2 separate regions of the Homo sapiens genome follow, and region 1 is linked to region 2. The links come from fine-mapping of genetic effects on gene expression. A gene starts in region 2. The other region holds a variant in brackets. All regions are shown on one strand. Distances are from middle to middle. Region 1 has its middle 78 kb from the start of LINC01395. Region 2 holds the start of LINC01395 (long intergenic non-protein coding RNA 1395).

What was found. PIP is the estimated chance that this variant, and not a neighbour inherited with it, causes the effect.
Region 1: its variant is fine-mapped to the expression of LINC01395 in sun-exposed skin (GTEx, PIP above 0.99).

The regions. Positions count from the first base shown.
Region 1 is chr11:129,690,827-129,700,680 of GRCh38, forward strand. No RefSeq gene overlaps it. Among named protein-coding and RNA genes, the nearest start is that of LINC01395, 78 kb to the left of the region's middle. The variant C/T (reference allele first, on the strand shown) is at 4,695.
Region 2 is chr11:129,613,155-129,623,008 of GRCh38, forward strand. It overlaps LINC01395 (long intergenic non-protein coding RNA 1395), which reads right to left and starts at 4,115. Exons shown (of 4, transcript NR_120582.1): 1 at 3,857-4,115; 2 at 2,153-2,381; 3 at 1,171-1,333.

The sequences.
Region 1 (9,854 bases), 78 kb after region 2:
CCGAGGCATGGATGGCCCGCCAGAGCTACGAGGCAGAACTGGGCAGGGGGCCGGGTGGGAAATGGGGAGCGCCCCCCATTTTCCCTTTCATACTCCTCTACCCCTGCCAAGAAAAAGGAAGTCCTCCTGTCTCCTTTTTTCATTTTTTAAATTATTTTTCAATGACAATTAATAATTGTGTATATATGGGGTACAATGTGATGTTTTGATTTATGATATTGTAGAAAGATCCCATCAAGCTAATTAATATATTCATCACCTCATCAACTTATCGTTTGTTTGTGGTGAGGACCTTAAAGATCTATTCTTCTAGCAATTTTCAAATATACAGTACATTGTTATCCACTGTGGTCTCCGTGCAGTGCACTAGATCCTCCTTTCTGACAAGGCTGCATTGAGAGAGCGTTTGGCAGCTGCTGCAGCATCAGGCATGGGAACGGCTGGGCCACCGGCTGCAAGCTTGTCTCCCATGACCCCGGGGTAAAACGGGTGCAGTTCTGGTAACAGGCAGGCCCTCCCCCAGCCTCCTGCTCAGGGCTGCCACTGACACTGCACCCGAATCCTGCCTGCTGCCCAGCAAAGGACATGCCTGCCACATCCAGCTCTCCTTCCAGAGGCACCTGTCACTTGCTGCCCTCTCCTTATCCCAGTCCCACCAGCCCAGCAGGGTAGAGGCCAGGGCTCGCCTCGCCACGGGAAACTGCTCCACTGCTGATCCCAGCCAGGGAAAAACTGCCTTGGGAAGAGTGTGCTCAGCTCCCTGTGGGGGGGCAGGGAATTCCACCATCTCCCCCACAGCCACTTCCAGATGTACCTGGAGACCTGGGTTTGCCTCTGGGGCGAACTGGAAAATTGACAGCAAAGGAAATGAAAATTCTCCAGGGAGCCAGAGACTTTTGGGGGTAGATGGAGAAATGGATGAGTTTGCGTGCCTTGCACTGCATGTGACACCCAGAGTTGAGAATGGGCCTTTGAACTAGCCAAGCCAGCCAGCTGGTCTGACCTCCAAGGCAAGCGCGGCCCTGAGAGGCTACCTGATTGTACCAAATGTCAAGGCCAGTGCTGAGCAGAGCCAGCACTGGAATGAGTTCTCCTGAGACCCAGTTCCCTCAAAACCCACTAGTTTTTCCCCTTCCCCACCCCTGAGACCCAAAGCTGAAGAGTAATTATGGTGACCTCCAAGGCCCCATGTGATCTGCCTCCCCACCCCCAGAACCTATCTGATCTCCCCTTGTCCTTCTCCCCTCACTCTCTGCACCCCGGCACACAGCTGGTCCCTGAGCACCCCAGCCATGCTACGTGTTGGCCCTGACATCAGCATCACTAGTCCCCTCACCTGCTTCAAGTCTTGGCCAAGTGTCACCTCACCAAGGTGGAGTCTCTGACCATCCTATTACTACCGCTGCGGCCTGCCCCGCCTCCTCAGCAGGCCAATCTCCCCTCCAGCTCCACTTTTCTTCTCTCTCAGGACTCCCACCTCCTAACATGCCCTTTATCTCTTTATTTATTATGCCTCCTGCTGATGGTCTGCCTCTACCACAAGAATGTCAGCTACACAAAGGGCAGAGACCCCATCTGTTTCATTCACGCTGTAACCTCCGTATTAAGAGGGGGCTCTAACTCAACCAATATTCACTGAATGAATGATGAGATGAGCTTCTTTAAAGGGTACTTGTGCTATATGTTTACTTGTCTTTCCAGATCGCCCCCAGAGGCTTAATATCAAATGCACCAAATGATATACCCGCTTTTTAAATGTACCCCCACAAAAAAGGGAAGCCTGAAATCTAAGCCCCTCTCTCATGCCTTGCAGTCCCCATCTGGGACCTCAGGTGAATGATGAGGCACTGCATGTGGGGTTAGAAAGACTTTAGTCTTGGCATTGTGGGAATGGGAGTAATGCCTTTTTAGAGAATTAAGGTATCCTGGTGTCATGTGCTGGTGAGGCCCAGTGGCCCTGCCACAGAATGGGCAGTACCTCCTCACCCACTCCTTCTGGAGATGGCACTGGTGGCTCAGTTGCATATTCAAGCAACTATTGTCAGGCCAGGATTTGTGATGTATCCCAGGATCCAATTAAAATTGTTGTTGTTGCTGTTGTTGTTTTGGTCTTTGCACGGACAATATAGCAAGTCTGGTAAGTTTCTCTGATCGGCAGCAAGCAGCCTCGGGGAGAGAGCTACAATTATTGAGCACTGCGCCTTGGTTTTTACGTACATCACCCCTCACCATGCTCCCAGCAGTCCTGCAGTGAAGATGTTGTACCCGTTTTGAATTTTAGGAAACTGACGCGCAGAAAATGCAAGGGACTTGCCTGGAGTCACACGGCTAGAGGGGATAAGGCCAAAGATTCAACTCCATGCTCTTTCTAACACACCAGGCTCCCAATAAGCACTTATTACAAGAATGAATGATCCAAGGCACAAGGACTGAAGCAGAGAATGGGTATGTTTTAAGGGAGAAGAGGGATAAAAGAAAGGTCACGGCCAGGTGCAGTGGCTCACGCCTGTAATCCCAGCACTTTGGGAGGCCGAGGCAGGTAGATCACAAGGTCAGGTGATCGAGACCATCCTGGCCAACATGGTGAAACCCCGTCTCTACTAAAAGTACAAAACAAAAATTAGCTGGGCGTGGGGGCGCATGCCTGTAGCCCCAGCTACTCAGGAGGCTGAGGCAGGAGAATCTCTTGAACCCAGGAGGCGGAGGTTGCAGTGAGACGAGATCACGCCACTGCACTACACAGCCTGGCAACAGAGCGAGACTCCACTGAAAGAAAGAGAGAAAGAAAGAAAGAGAAAGAAAGAGGGAAGGGAAGGGGAAGAGGGAAGGGAAGGGGGAGGGGAAAGGGAAGGGAAGGGGAAGGAAAGGGGAAGGGGAAGGGGAAGAGGAAGGGGAAGGGGAAGGGAAGAGAAAGAAAGTTCACAGTGTAAGGCCAGGCGCGGTGGCTCACGCCTGTAATCCCAGCACTTTCGGAGGCCAAGGCAGGTGGATCACGAGGTCAGGAGATCGAGACCATCCTGGCTAACACGGTGAAATCCCGTCTCCACTAAAAATATAAAAAAATTAGCCGGGTGTGGTGGGGGGCGCCTGTAGTCCCAGCTTCTCGAGAGGCTGAGGCAGGAGAATGGCGTGAACCCGGGAGGCGGAGCTTGCAGTGAGCCGAGGTTGCGCCACTGCACTCCAGCCTGGGCAACAGAGCAAGACTCCGTCTCCAAAAAAAAAAAAAAAAAAAAAAAAAACTTCACAGCATGGAGAGCAGGCCCACTTGGGACACAGAATGGGCATGTGTCAAGGGCCCTGGGAGGAGGTGCTGGAAAGGGACAGTGGAGAAAAGGGGGGGACAGCCGATCAGTCCCCTGGGCCATTCTGCTTGCCTCCTCACTAAGAATAGTAGCATCTCCCCTCGCTCCCACTGCTTTCTGTGGCTCTCAAAATGCTTTCGCATGCATTTTCTCACTACAGCCTCAGAACAATCTTTAGGAGTAGTGTTATCTTCCCCATTTCACAGATGAGAAAGCTGAGACTCAGGGAGGCCACATAACTCGCCCAAGAACACATAGCCAATTAGTGGCAGGTATGGGGCTCCATTTAAGTATATGACCCCGCTCTGGTTCAGTATTCTTATCCCCACCCCAAATAAAGAGAATCACACGACCTTATTGTGATAATAAATAGCAACTGTAGTCAGAGGGAGAGAGGCCCAGGGAGGAACAATAATCTAACTAAGACGCTTGACATTGGAAACTCCTGGAGGGCAGGGCAGAGATCATGCAGGAGATTTAACAGCACCCAGCACAGCTGCCCACGCGGAGGTGCGTCTATGCTGAGCTGCCACAGCAAGGCTGCAGTGCCTGGCCCGGAGCTTGGTCACGCTGACCTCCACGGCAGGAACTGAGAGCAGCATCTACTCCCAATCCTGCATAAGAGGTCATAGAAACACCCTACAGCCCAGGGGGGAGCCAGTCCCGGCCAGGAGGTGGCGTCACAGTTCAGAGAGGTGCCAAGTGAGCAGAAAACAGCTCCTGGTCTCTGTAGCTGAGAGAGACAGAGCTGGACATCCTGGCCCGATGGAGCTCTGGGTGTTGTTCCCACAACAGCAACAGCACAGAGCGCTGAACACACACCCCACAGTTCACTGTCCGTGGCCAGGAGGCCATTCAAAACGTGATTGCTGGTTGTCAACTCCAAGAACTAACAGGAGTGAAAACTCACACACACACACCCCCAAGAATGCAGGCTCTGCCTGGCACGCAGGGAAGTCTGCCCTCGTGCCTGGGGTTCCTTCCTCTGTGGGCATCCCATCTTCAGAGCCTTGGCTCTCCCTTCCCCTGAGGGATTACTCACCACTTCCCTAACACTGCCGGGCTGCCCTGCTTTGCTGCCATGGAGTCCAGTCATCAGGCAGATTCATTCACATCTACGCGCCTGAGTGGTACTGGCCACCACGTAACGGAGTGGACATCAAACAGAGAAGTGGGCAACCTGGAATTGGGTGCCAGTCCTCGAGTCCCTCATCAGCCAAAAGAAAATCATCTCATGAATGCCTACCCTCCAGAAGTGTCACGGGGAGACCATCAGGTGTGTACCAGAAGCACTTCCTACGCTGCAAAGCAGCAAAGAAAGGCAGCCTCTATAGCGGTTTGTAAAGAGTGCCTTGCAGAGAGGACACAGCCTGGCTGATGAGTTTCCAGCAG[C/T]AGAGCTTTAGGTATGATTGAATCTTGGAGAGGAAGAGACTTTGGTTCTGTTGAGCCTGCTCCATGTTTCTCAAAGCACACACCACCCACTCTGCCAACAGGTAAAGCTTCGGATGGAACCTGCTGTGTTCTGTCCTCTTCCAGCTGAGCCAGGCCCGCGGGCCCCCTCCAGGAGCTCCGGGCAAGCAGCCCCTCATGGCCCGTGGTGGAACTGCACCCTCAGCACTGGAGAGGGCGGTCGCAGGAGCCTGCGAGGAAGGTGGGGTCTCAGTGCTTTCGCACAGGGCGAGTGGAGCTGGAAATGCAGCCCCCAGTAGTTTCAGTTATTCCATGTATGGCTTTTCTCTCTCACCTTGCACCTTTAGACCCTAATTTCCTGTGAGCAATGTGCTGGGAAAACTGGCAGCAGCTCTCTGGCAACCCTGGGGGAAAGAAGCGAAGTGGGGTAGAAGCGGAAGCCAGGGGCAGAGGCTGGGTCGGTCCAGCCAGCCCGCGAGGGCTCCCACGCAGCAGAGGTTCCACTGAGAGGAAGCCGGGGCTGGCCCGGCCGGGAGACTCCCTCCACGCCCCGTGTGTGGAGTGCCCGGGCACCCTATACCCTCAAGGTGGCCTTGACCTCTGGAGACAGGTGTTGGCTCCTTGAGTCACCAACAGCAGGGACCAGACCGGGAGGTGTTTCTGGGCGGGAAGGGCTGGGCCAGGCCAGGCTCCAGCAGGCCCCCTTGTGGTCAGAGGGGTTGCCTGCAGGATGATCGGCTTGGGAACCAAGGCAGCCACTCCCCACATGGGAGTTGGACCCAGGCTTGAAGGACACATTGTCACATCGATTCACTCTCCTGGGAGGCCTCCTTGTCACACAAGATGTCCTGGCCCCGGTGTTTTTCTTCACCATATTTCTCCCAACTGTAATTGTGTAGTTCCTGGGGCGCTTATCTCTCAACGTCCATCTCTGTGAAAAAAGCCGTGACCCTCCAGGATAAGGTCTGTGCGTGAGACCCCCTGTGTGGAAAGGACGTATGAAAGTCTCAGGACTCTACCTAAGAGCCAGGACCCGGCTCAGGTCGCAGCTCCACTGCACCAATGCCCCTCAGCCCCAGGAGAGACTGAGATCTCTGTAAACAGCAGAGATCAGCAATACAGGCCTTGCCCTGCTGAAACTTCCCTCTGAAAGGAAGGATAATGCTTTCAGCCAAGTGCCTGCCCAGAGCTCTGCAGGTGTGTGGCATGGAGGGCCTGGTGCCCCAGGAGGAGCTCAGCCTCCTGCCCCACCAGAATGGCCCGGGGCTCCCCAGGCTCCCTGCGATCCTGGCTCTCGTCACACCACTCTCCAATCCCACATTTGGTCCTCTGTCATGTCCATGAGGCTGTGGGTGCACCCTGTCATTGTTTGTATCCCCTGGCGATTAACACAGTCCAGGCAGAGAATCAAGTCAACAAGAATGAAGGAGAAAGTGGATCAATGAATGTTGGGCCCTATTTAGGGGCTGAGGACACAGAGATAAATAAAATTCTATCTCTGCCCATGCAGGGTTCAAAGTCAAATTGGGGGACACAAAGTAATAATCACAGTACAGTGAAATTCATGTGTAGAGTGAAAGTCATGTTTAAGGAAGCTTTATTAGGGCACATGACAAAATATCCATGACTATGTTTTAGCTGGTCAGGGAAGGCTCCTTGGAGGAGGTGACTTGGAACAGTCTTAGAGGAAAGTAAAAATTCCAGGCAGGGATGAACAGGGCTCCCAGGCAGGGCACCTCATGTGAAGAGGTACAAGAAGCCAGAGTGGAAATGTGCAGAGCTTACTGTGGGGACCTAAGGGTGGCACGTACACCGTTGGAGCCAGCGCAGGAGCTGGCCTGGGGTGCCAGAAGGGATGGAAGAAAGGTTCCCAAGGGGGTTGGAATATCAAGCAAGGGATAAGTTGTGGGGTGGCGAAAGGATTGTAAGCAGAATGCTTGACTCCCCAGGGGTTTTTTTCCAACAGGATTCTCTGACGGCATTATAGAGAGAGGAGAGGAGGGGAAGAGCCTCAGTCAGGAGGCTCTGTGGGATGCTGTTGCCTTGGTCCAAGCAAGAGACAAGGCAGGCCCTGAGCAGGATGTGGCGGGGGGCTGGAGTGGGAGGACGGATTTCAGAGATATTTAGGAGAAAGAACTTGGGGCGCAAAGGAGAGGTGGGGAGAAAAGAGGGTGAAGGAGAAATAAGGTAAAGGGGAACAGAAGCCAAGCATCAGCTTCTCCTGCCTCTTCTTCTGCAATCCTCACTCCCCAAGCACGGACCAGCCAAGGACAAAGACCCAGCTCACTGGTCAGCCTACACATGTCTCAGCTATTCTTCTCATGAAAGAGGATGTTTTAGAAACCCTGACCTGAGCTGGGTGGTCTTATTTGTAACAATATTGTAGATGGCACATAGAGGCACTTGGATAAATACTGAATGAGGCCGGGTGCAATGGCTTACGCCTGTAATCCCAGCACTTTGGGAGGCTGAGGAGAGCAGATCACTTGAAGCCAGGAGTTCGAGACCAGACTGGCCAACATGGAGAAACCCCATCTCTACCAAAAATACAAAAAAATTAGCCAGGCATGGTCGTGCATGCTTGTAATCCCAGCTACTTGGGAGGCTGAGGCAGGAGAATCACTTGAACCCAGGAGGCGGAGGTTGCAGTGAGCCGAGATTGTGCCACTGTACTCCAGCCTGGAAGACAAGAGTGAAACTCCATCTCAAAAAAAAAATAAATACTGAATGCATGATTTAGCAAGTGAATGAGTGAGTGCATGAATGAATAAATGAATTCTTCACAACTTATCCCAGGACAGACTGACTAGCAGGTTTATCCTTGCTCAAAAGAGGAACCCCCAGGTTCCTCCCTGCTGCTGCTTTGAGTCCACGTGCCCAGGGCTTGCTGGCTGCCCAGGCTCAGCTGAGACTCACAGTTGTTTGTCTAAATCTTCCTCTTTTGGAGGTCAGAACTGCAGACCTGGGAAGGGGATTGAACTCCAGAGCCTGCTTTTTCTGTGCAGGGGCTAGAAAGATTGAAAGATACAAAGATGGAAACCTCTGGATTTCTCACCAGTTGGTTGACTACCCTGAAAGAGACTGTCAAAGTTATGCCTCCTTTCCAAATGATCTCACCCACTGCCAGGAGATGATCTGCGTGACCTACAAGCAAAGGCAGATAGCAACCAAGAGCTGAAATTAAAGTAGTGGAAAGATTAATTTCCCCATACAGGGCACTTCCCCACCCCCCAACCCTGCTTTTTGTTTTTTCGTTTTTTTGGGTTTTTTTTTTTGCACAGGCAGCAATTCAATAAATAATTAATGCTTGCTAATCTTTTAGCTATTTCTCCTGTTGTAAAAAATTAATTGGTCTTCAATCATCTATTGCATTGTAATATGGAGGTATTTGGCCCTAGTCCACCACCCTGCTGAAACACGCCCCTCCTGATGTTCCTTGGCATATGTCAGTGACACTGGGCAGTCATGCCCAGCCTCCAGGTTCAGGACATGAATGGGAGTGCACAGCCATGTGGCAGACAACTCCAGGGAGCTTCACACAAGCACTGCCTCTTTCTTCCAGCACGTTTGAGGAGTTTGCAAATGCTCATTCTCACAACACCTCCTCCCTAGTTGCTGAGACTCCTATTTTGCAAAAGAGGTTGAACAAGATTAATGATGGGGTGGAGAAGCAGCACCATCTCTCTCCAGGCCTCTGACTAGGGACATCACATGTCCTGGGATCTCTTTCTGGCTTTTGCCACTGAACTTGTGCCTCAGTTTGCCTAAGCAGGACTATCAGATCCACAGGAAGCAAAATGGGGAGGGGCGGTGGGGGAGGGAAGATTTCCAGATGTCTTGGTTCCTGCAGCCTCAACTACGACATTTTACCTCTTTGAAATCACAACTCAATCATACCACCTCCTCCAGGAAGCTTCCTAGATTAAACCAGCCTGGTTATCCCCACCCCAGTGCCTGACTTGCCCTCCCTATTCAGTGCCCTTTAGAGATTATTCTAATGACAAAGTTCAGTGGATGACTAGTTTGCCTACTATTGTTTTCTCATATTAAAATTTAAGCCATGTAGGGTGGTAATCATGTTTGCTCTTCAGTAAATATTCCAAGAACTTGTGTGGCTGCAAAAAGTCTTACAGAAGGGAGGAGAGGGGGTTGTCAGCAGGAGCAGCCCAGGAGACGCTCATGAGAATACGCAAGGGTCTGCACCAGTCAGCACTTGGAATTGTCCCTCCTGGGAGAGCCATGTAGCTAGCCGGTAGGTTCAGAGGACAAGCACCATCAGGGGCTCATGTCTGAGTCCCGCCCGGCTCCTTCTGCCACTTCTGAGTGGCATCACTTAATCTCTTCCAGCCTCAGGATCTCATCTGAAAAAATGTCTCCCTCATAAGGTTGTTGTAGGGATTACGTAAGATGGTGAATGTAGACAACGATTGCAAACTGGGGAGCACGAGGTCGATATGAGCACTGATTGCTGCCCCGCTACATGGTCCTCTTGCTCTGCAACCATCTTCAGAGGCACCATCCTGTGCCTACCTTGGAAACAGCCTGAATTCCAATTCCCTGACTTGCATCCCTCCCTCTGGCCTCTTAAGGTAGTTTGAGGATAGCATTCTACAATGTCAGAGCTAGGACAGATCCTTAATGGTCACTTTGCAGGTAGAAAAACAGGTCCAAAGACCAATGCAACTGACGTGGGCTTGCACAACTGCATTGGGCAGCTCAGTCCCAACCCCACGACGCCTGACTGCCCACAAGGGCGCTCCTTACTAATAGAGTTTTGATTGGGTACTTCCTTGAGCCAGGTTCTCTGCTGAGCACCTAACATGGGTTACCTAATTTAATCCTCACACAACTCTGTGGGGTCAATACAGTGGTCATCTTCATTGTTTAGACAACATAACTGAAGCACTGAGAAGGTCACACAACTAAAATGGGTCAAAGCCAGATTCTAAGTCATTCCAGAGCCTGTGTGCAAATATACTACACTCGCTACCTCGCTGCACGATTCCTCTCATAGACTGACTCTCTAGGAAAAGAATCAAGTAAGAAATACCCTCCTAGTCACAAGATTCACTGAAGAGTAAAAGCGGAATCCTTGCCTTCAACATTTTATGGTGCGTCTCTTCCTCTGCTTCTTCCTTTCTC
Region 2 (9,854 bases):
ACATCTCTCCAGAATAAAGAACTAAAGACCAGTGACTAAGAGACAGACACTTGAAGGATTGCTCCATAAAGGCTGAGCCCTCCTTATCTCAGAAGAATGAGAACATTTTCTTGTAAGGAAAACAAGAGCCCTGTAGCCTTTCCACAGCCACAGAGCAGTGGAGTAGGGAAAGGGCGCCTCCACTGTGCAATCAAGGGTCTTCTTTCTGGCCAGGCACGGTCTCTCACACCTGTAATCCCAACACTTTGGGAAGCCAAAGCAGGAGGATCACTTGAACCCAGGAGTTCGAGACCAGCCTGGGCAACATGGTGAGGCCCTGACTCTACAGAAAAATTAAAAAATTACTCAGGGATGGTAGCATGCACCTGTGGTCCCAGCTACTCAGGAGGCTGAGGTGGGAGGATTGCTTGAGCCCAGGAGGTAGAGGCTGCAGGTGAACCATGTTCTCTCCACTGTATTCCAGCCTGGGCAACAGAATGAGACTCTACCCCCCCACCCCCTAAAAAAGTGTTTAACCATAAACCTTTCCCTCATCCCTAAATCCATTTTGGGTACAAGCCATCTACCCAATGGCTGTAATAATAGTTATTGATGATTGAGAATGTACAGTATATGTTGAGCACTTGCTAAGTGCTTTCCGTATATTATCTCACCATGTGGCAAGCCTGGAGAAAGCTTGCAGAGAGTGAGGAACTGCCCAAAGTCACACAGGTCATCAGGCTTCCTGAGAATGGCACCACGGCCTCGGCTTTACAGGCATGGCACTTGAGTTCACCTTCACGTGCTGGGGATCCTGTGTTCCCAGAAGGCAGAGACCCTATCTGTGTCCTTCTGTTAATTATTTTTGTGTACAAAATAATTCAGTCCTGTGCTCAGTGCCATGAACTATTAGGGATTTAATACATGCTTTTTGAGGGTGATAATGATCTCACCATCCCAGTTAGTGAAATAAACATTCCCTCCCTTCTCTCAAAGAGAAACAAAGGGCCACAGCAGGCCAAGCCACCCCAGGCACACTGCAGGGTGTGTGGAGATGGCACCAGCAGGTGAGTCCCACAGACCTGGCTTTGGATCCCAGCCTGGTCACCCACGGCCTGGCCCCTGGGGTGCACCAGCTAACCTCTCCAAGGCCAAGTTTCCCCAAACACGGGAGAAAGTCACAGCACCTACCTCGTAGGGTCATTGTGAAAATGAAGTGAGAAAATGCCCACGGTGTTCCCAGCAGCCCTGCCTGGTGGAAGGCAGGTGTTCCATGTCAGTTTCCTTACTCAGCACCCAGGCATCTTCTTCCTCTCGTGGAGCTCTCAGCACTCAAGAGCCCCTTCAGTAAGACCTGGAATGCAGTTTGTTGACCAAAGGAGTGCTGGCAGGGAGGATCTCCACTTGGGTGGCCGTATCTCCTACCTCTGCTCTTGGTCCCCCTTTGCCTTGGGGACATTCCCACCAACACACGCCACTGGCAGCGCACCCTGCTGACCAGCATGCACTGCTGTTCTTACTTACCCCAAAAGCCCAGACTTGAATACCCTGTTGTCCTCAGTGGCGCGGCTGAGACCAGGCTGGAGCTTTTCAACAAGATGTAACTCAAGTGGGGAATAACATGCAAGTAACCCTTAAGGTGACTGCCGCACCCTGTGGCCCACACAGAGAGGCTCTCTGCCCAGCCCCACTTGTCTGCAAAGGATATCCTCCAGCCTGTCTAGAGTCCACAAGGTCCAGGCTGGAGAGAAAGAGGCCAAGGAGCCAGATGTCTCTCTCTCACCCACGACCTACTTTCTGAGATCTTACTTCCATACTGAAGACAGGCCTCCTTCCCAGGGGATACCAGAAGTCAGAGTTCCTTTCAGTGGGTCTTGCCTTATTATATTCAGTAATGTGGCCCAGCAAATAAATATGTCAATTCAACAATAAACCCTGTGTCTATACATGCAACGCTCCCTGGAACAGCAGGGAAAGGGAAGAGGAGGGGAATTTGATTACAAGTGCTTTATATTTACGCTGTCTCATGAGATGCTTCCAACAGGCCTATCAGATATTTTAGAACCATCATTCCTAATTTGCAGATAACAAAATTTTGGCTTGGAGAGGTTAAGGGAATGACCAAGCTAAGCCCAGTTCTCCTGTCTCCCTCCCTTGAGTTCAGGATACCAACCCAATCACTGAATCTTCCCCAGGAACGAGCCTGGGGCCAGGGTGAGAAAGGGGCTTCCCGGAAGTGCTGAGTTAAATCGGCACTGGATGCAGCCACGGACAAGGGGACATGGTGGTTGTCCCTCTCTCTGCCAAGTTGTAGGTCAGGAGACCTGGTTCAAGCCCAGGCTTTGCCACTTGGAAGACTGTATGGTCTGAAATCATTCTTCTCAGTGCCTCAGTTTCTGCATCTGTGAAACGGTGAGGAACAAACCAATTAATACACATAAAGCCCTTAGTGCCCTTGATGCCTAGAACATGTAAGTATTTAATAAATATCAACATTTTTATTAACATTGTTATTGTTACTGTTATTCCCTTCCAAAGTCTTGCAAGAAGTAAATGGGATGACAGATGTGAAAACACATTATAAGCTATAGAGGTAAGAAATGACCACTCATGTATGCTGAGAAGGTAACAGGAAAAAGGGCTTGGCCTTAGATAATGTCATTGAACAGCCTCAAACTTTCAACAGAAAGCACAGAAATATTCCAAAAAGAGTACTCCAATAATTTGAAACCAGGCCACCGAGTCCAAGTTCTTGCCACAGTTCCAGGGCCGAGGCTGTTTCCCAAGAGCCCTGTAATTGCTTTCAACCTGTGCCTCACCCAAACACCACGGCTGGCGCAGGTGGACACCTTCCGTCTCTTCTCCTTCCAGGCTGGGCCCCAGAAAGAAATACTCCAATAATTCACCTTGTGGTTTTCAACTTTAGACCAGATTGTTTGTTATGTATATAACTGTTTGCATTTCACTTACTTATCCTCAATCGTCACATACCTGGGAGGGAAGGAGGCTGCACAGAGCCCCCGGAGCCCCAGCCCCACGTGGTTACACCTGCCCACGCTTCTGGTCTAAGTAGTCCTTGGGTGCCTTAGTGTGAACGGAGCATACAATTAAGCTCTGTCTCTCTTTCTCAGCTAACTCAGGTGCAATCCTTCTTGACAGTCTGGAGGAACCAGGCAGGCTGGCCACCAAGTGAGGGGAAGTTGCTGCTAGCTCATTAATGGTTGAAAGCCCAATAGTACCACCCCTCACTGTCTTGTAGCAAAGACCCTTGGCTCATGTTTAGAATGTTAGCCAAATAGGAGTCACCGAGTGCAACTTTATGGCAGCACTCAGCTGGAAACAGTGGGGCATCTAGGGGAAGTGTCCGTGCTCGGTCCCTGCCCTTACACGGATCAGTCTGGCTGATGGAATGAGACGAATGAAATGGAAACAATGAGCAAATCATAAAAGGCAGTACTGTCATGAAGAGTTTGATTTTATGGCACAGAATGCAATTGTTAGAGTTAGAGTAGGGAGAGATGGCCAAGAGCTAGAGTGGGCAGGGAAGGTTCCTGTGGGAAGAGGTTAGCTGGGCCTTTCAGGTATGCAGGAGTTGAACTGGTGGGAGGGAGAGTGGCATTCCAAGTTGGGGAAGCTATGTGAGAGAATCTAGGAGACAGAAAAGAACAAGGGCTGTTTATAGAGCAGAGGCCAAACTGGCATGACTAGAGTAGAAGGAGGGCATCCTAATTCCCAGCCTTATCCACCGCTTTGCAAGAACCAGGAAAATGAATTCCTGTTGGCCATAAAACTAGTTGCAGGTGATGTAACCCATCCTATTCGGCCTCCCATATTTACAGCTATACAGGAACAACTCTCTGAAACTCAGTCTCCTCACCCGTAAAATGGGATGGTAATACGTGCCCCTGGGAGCCAGCGAGAATTAAAAGGGATAAGATGCACTGGCTCCCAGGGGCAAGCACTAGCAGACAAGGAATAGGGCAGTCCTCCCTTCACACTCCACAGAGAAGAAATGTCCTCCAACTCTCCCAGGAGGCAGAGCCCAGCTCTCCTTCCAAACAGCCTTGGAGTTGCTTGGCCTCTCCACTTCTTCAACGAAGTTGTGGGCAGAAGACAAATGCAGAGTTCTCTTGTACCTGACAAGGAGAGAGAAGCAGACCCTGTGTGAGTCTCTTGCTGTTGACGTTGATCCACAGGGGGTGCAGGATGGGACTGAGGCAGGCCCACCTGCCTGGAAAGCCTGCCTGTACCCTGACCCCATGGGGCCCTAACACACACCCTCCCAGCCACAGGGGCTCTGCAGAGCTAAGCCAGCTGTCCTATGGAGGTGGGGACCCTCCTCCTGCCCTGCCACTCTCTCTTTCTCCTGGAGAGGACAGGCAGGTGGGCATGGCCACAGGAGAACTTCTCGAAGGTGCTAACTGGCCCAGAGAAAGAAAGGTGGCCTGGTAGGGAGTTGTCTACCAGAGATTGAGAGAGCATGGGAGAAGTTGAGAGGGAGGAGGAAAGTGCACGCCATCCTGCGCGCAGCCTCGCCTTAGGGAAAGCATGTGTGAGAAGTGGTGGTAGGCGGTTGCTAGCCTTGGAAACAAACAAACAGCCAACCAAAAGGCTTCGGAAGGAAGGAGTGTCTAATTAATCAGCCCCGAGGGACAGGTCCGCACTGCCTGACTGTGCTCCTCAGCCTGGTTTCAGGCCACCGAGTCCAAGTTTCTGCCACAGTTCCAGGGCCGAGGCTGTTTCCAAAGAGCCCTGTAATTGTTTTCCACCTGTGTCTCACCCAAACACCAAGGCTGGCGCAGGTGGACACCTTCCCACTTTTCTCCCTCCAGGCTGGGCCCCAGAAATCAGTAGAGGAGGGAGGAATCAGTCAGCGTGGCCATGCCTGGGAGGAGAGGCCCGTGTGGGTCTGTGGGGCTAAGAGGCAAAGGCGGGTGGCGGATGTGGGCCAGCGGGAGCCTGGAGGGGTTGACACCGCCTGCTCCACCGCAAGCCCCTGGAGGAAGAGCCCCGCTGTGCCCGAGAGCGAGCGCGGGCAGGTGTAACTACCCGGGGCTGGGGCTCCGGGGGCTCCGCGCAGCCTCCTTCCCTCCCAGGGACACCGCCCAGCTGCGCCCCGCGCCCCGCCGACTGCGCGGGCCTTGAGACGCTGGTGGCTGCCTCGGGGTTGGCCTGCTCCTCGCGCACATGTTCAGGGTCATCCGCGCTGCGCCTCTGCTTCAGGTGCTTGGCTAGAGAAAGGGCGGCAAGACGGGGCAGTGCGTGTGCGCGCGCGGGCAAGTGCATGTGAGTGCACACTTATGTGAGCGCATGTGTGTCTGCGCTTGTGCGTGTCCAGGGGAACCACAGGGAGCACCCTCATTCTAAGCCTCCAGAGGACTGCCTGAAGCCGCTAGATAGAAACTCCCCTAGAATGTAAGCTCCGGGGGGGAGGGAGCTTTGTTTGATGGCTGCTGTATTCCCAGTGCCCATTGAAGTACTGGGGACACATTAGATGCTTAATAAACAGCTGTTGAGTTAATCAACGGACTCTAGGAATGGAGGCAGACCGGCCCTTCTGGAACTGGAGAAAGGACAAGGCCACATTTCACCGTCTCCTCTGTTCTTGGTACCAGCCCTGGCGTCCCCGGCAACGCCAATCCTTCTCACATCCAGCTTGTGCCAAGTTTTCCTCCCTGCTCGTGTTTACACCTTCTCCCCTTTGTCTCTGTTTCCTGCTGGCCCCTGTGTGTAAGCACCCCAGCAGTCAGAGTGAGAGGAAGACGAAAGAAGCAGAATTCTGGAAATAGAGAGCTACCAGGGTGGCCTCTTCCTTCTGGAAGGACACGGAAAGATGGGGTGAGACTGGCGCTCTTCTTCAGCTCCTCCCTTTGGGAATTGGGACTTTGAGCTTCAGTTTCCTCACTTTGAAATAGCAGCTATTCCACCTGCCTCGCAGGATTGTTGCAAGAAGTCAGGCAGGAGGCTGAAAAGTTCTGGAGCACATGATAGGTGCTACAGAAACGTTCGTTTCGTCTCCTGACTAGCATCCAACAGTCTGGGAGTGCCCCAGGTGTGGCTGAGGGTGGTTATGGTTTGATAACCACCACCAGAACACCCCTCCTTTTTTCACAAAATGCCTTGAGGAGAATTTAATGGCTGTCGAAAATTAAGGCAAGCTTCATTTCTAAAACATTCAGGAGTCAATATGTTGTGAGTCATGTATTCCGTCGGGGCCTCCACTCACTCCGGAGGGAGCTTTTCCAAGTAATTAAACAACGATGTCGTGATCAAGCTGAAGTCCACCAGCCCCAGCCTTTCCATTCGGGACCTTCTCCTGCACATGCTGCAGCTGCCTCCAAGACTACTGCGATGGAGATGAGCAGATTCTTCCTTCAGTTGTAGAGGGAGACACTGCGAAAACCTAATGCTGTCAATAACGCTTTTCATCTCGAAAGGAAGGATCCGATTTCACTCTTTTCAGCCTGATTTAAGGACCCACCAGAAAAAAACAAACTTCATGGGGTAATTAGGAAATTATCCTCTTACAAATTGGTAGATGTCGTCTTTTTTTCCTTGGGACAAGACAGAAAGGACATTGTTTGTCTTTTACCATGGTGAAGCTGCTGCGATTAACCATGCCACCTGGGGAATGGTTCACTTGTGGGTAAGCTGATAGCCTGCTGTTCCAGGGTGCGCCTGCCAAGGTACTCCAGAATAACATGTTACATCCTCTGTGCACCCCTTCCCGATGAAAGGAAAACTTCAATCACATTTAGTTAAAGGAGCCCTTTAAACCTGGCCTGTCAATATCCTGGAGGTGGAGAATTACACCAAGGTTAAGAAAAGGTTTCCCAGAACTGGCTAGACATGTATTTGTTTAAAGGGATTAGGTGCATTCAGTCTGGGCCTGATCAATACTGCCTGTTTTGGGGTTTGTGGAAAACAGTGCAAATATCCAGAGAGAGCCTAGGAAGTCCCTAAAGACCCAAGGAAGGATTTTTTTTTTCTATTTGATAACAAGGAGAAATCCCTACTGTACAGTTTCCAAATCCTGACCTGTTTTAACTTAGGAATCTTGTGAAAAGTTATTGTAAATATAGACCAAAAGGCCAATGCTAAAATTGGAATTAACATCAACCTCCGCCTTTCACTCTGACATATTCTGTCTCACTCCTTTCTTACCTCTCCTGCTCTCTGTCTTACTCTGTCTCTCTGTGTCTCTCTGTGTGTCTCTCTCATACACACACAAAGCAACAACCCAACAGGCTTGACAAACCTTAGATTCATTAAGAGTCTTCTGAAGTTTTCAATATGCTAAAAGATGTACCGTAAGAATATATGTGTGTATGCGCATATATGTTAGCATTTCTGTTTAGCACTTGGTATACTCCAAAAGCTCTTACACACATTTTCTCACTGTGGCAGGTGTTATTATCCACAATTTTACCAAAGAGTAGACTGAGACTGAGACTCGGGGAGGTGAAGTGACTTGGGTAACAGTGTGCCGTCAGGGTACGGTACAGCCAGGAGTGAATCTGCCCTCCCAGCACATTAGAAATGACCATCATCTCATGCAGCTCTGCATGAAAAGACTCCCATAGTTAAATTACCACTCTATAGTAAAGCCCTGATTGCAGTTTCATCTGCGTCCCCTTCCAGAAGTATTTGCAATTCATTATCCAAATGAGAAAAGCTGTTAGTAAAAATTTCAGGTACCAGTAACAGGCTAAATAAACAAACATTAGGGTTTAAGATGAGTCAGGGACTCTTGAGTTGCGAAAGTTGGCAGGAGTTTTGTTTCTAGGAGCCTCTACAAGCCTCCTGGATGCCACTCTGCCTTCAGCCTCTCCCCTTCCAATCTGCTCTATGCGGTGCGGACTACTTGCCTCAACAGACCCAGACATACGAGCATCAGAAGGGAGGACTCCCTAGCGCAGTGGCTCCCTGAGTGTGGTCCCAGGACTGGCAGAAGCAGCATCACCTGGGAGCTTAATAGAGATGCCAATCCTCAGGCCCTGCCCCAGTGCTGCTAAATCAGAAACTATGGGAGAGGGGCCCAGCGATCTGTGTTTTAACAAGCCTTCCTGGTAATGCTGGTACACACTAAAGTGTGAGTACCACTGACTATTGCCTACAAGAGAGTGCCCAGACACCTCCCAGACCTCCCTAACTGAACCTAACAGGTTCCTCTCCTCTAACCACACTCACCTAACACTCACTGTTCTCTGAACATTTCTTTTTCATGTATCTTTGATGCCCTGTTCCTGTCATTTTGAATGGCATTTCCTTCTTCCCTGCCTGACAAACTTGTATTTATCATTTAAAGCCCAATTCAAAGATCTCTCCCTCTCGAGACTTCACGTGTTTTCTCTCTGCTGAGTTTTAGTTACTCCTTCCGTACCTCCCCTGATGGCACCCGTGCATACCTCAATAGCATCACCACATCGCGTTCTTTGGCATGAGACTCATGGTGGACTGGAATCTCAAGGTAGCCCCCGTACGTAGTGTTGTGCCAGGAATGTAGTAGATATTTAATAAATCCAGACTGATTAAATGAATAAGTGAATGCATGAGCTCAAGTACAGTCATTCTTTGGTGTCCCTAGAGGATTCATCTTAGCACCTTCCCAGGATACCAAAATCCACAGATGCCCAAGTCCCTGATATAAAATGGCACAGTATTTGCATATAACCTATGCACTTCCTCCATATACTTTACATCATCTCTAGGTTACTTATAATACCCAATACAGTGTAATGCTATATGAATCATTATACCTTATTGTTGAGGGAAAAATGGCAAGAAAAAAGAGTCTGTACATGTTCGGTACAGATGCAACTTTTTCAACATTTTCCATCTGAGGTGGGTTGAATTCATGGATGTGGACCCCACGGAGAGCTGTATTCTATCAGGCCTCATTGAGTACTCAAAATAGGCAACTGGCCTGTGAGCACATGGCTGGTTACTTCAGAGCCTGATCTGACCTCCAGGCATCCTGACTCCTAGCCAGGGTAGTCTGTGAAGTTTTGTTTGTTTCACCTGGGCGCCATGTCTTTAGGTTATGTAACTGTTAGACAGGAGTCATTTTTGGCTACTTTGTGACAGATAAATATATCAAATGCTCAAAACAGGTACAGTTCTTCCCTTGCAGCTGTGGAGCTGTGACTGTTGAGGCCACAGCCTGTATTGGTTATCTTCGCATCTCTCTGTGTTTGTAGTTGTAAATGGCAGCGACCTATCGCAGTGGTATCTAGACCAACTATTAAACCATTTATAATGCCCAGAAACCAATTTGTAGCATCCAGCAATTAGTTCCATTCATGTTTTTAATTTTTTTCCTTTGAAGTTTAATAGACGGTTATTATGATGTAGTCTTCACTGCCTCCAAGTCTGCAGGCTGTGTGCAGCCTCAGTCAGCAGCCAGAGAAAATTAGACTCTACAGAGAAACGATGTAACCTAAAGCGATGCTTTGGATTCCATTTCTGAGCCTGTTGCCCTGCCCAGGTCATTGTCCATGAAGAGAGTTAGGACGAAAGGAGATTTGGAATACATACATTTAGCGAGCCTTACTATGTGCTGGGCACTGGGGCCACACAGAGAGCAAGAGTTGGTACCTCCCTTCACAGAGCTTCTAGACTGGTGGGGGAAGGGAAGAAAGGTTGAGAAGACGAATTTGCAGTCTAGTGGGCTGTGTGCAATGACAGAGGAAGCTCAGGGCAGGGAGCTCAAGGGTGAGGAGCAGTTAGCCAGCTAGACATGCGGAGGGAGACTGCTCTGGGCAGGGAAGCTGGGAGGTGAGAGAGAGGTGGTGCTTCTGAAGAACTCAAAGTCGTGCACATGGCTGGGCTTAGCACGGCAGACTCTGGAGCTTCTGGAGCTACATCTGGGGTGT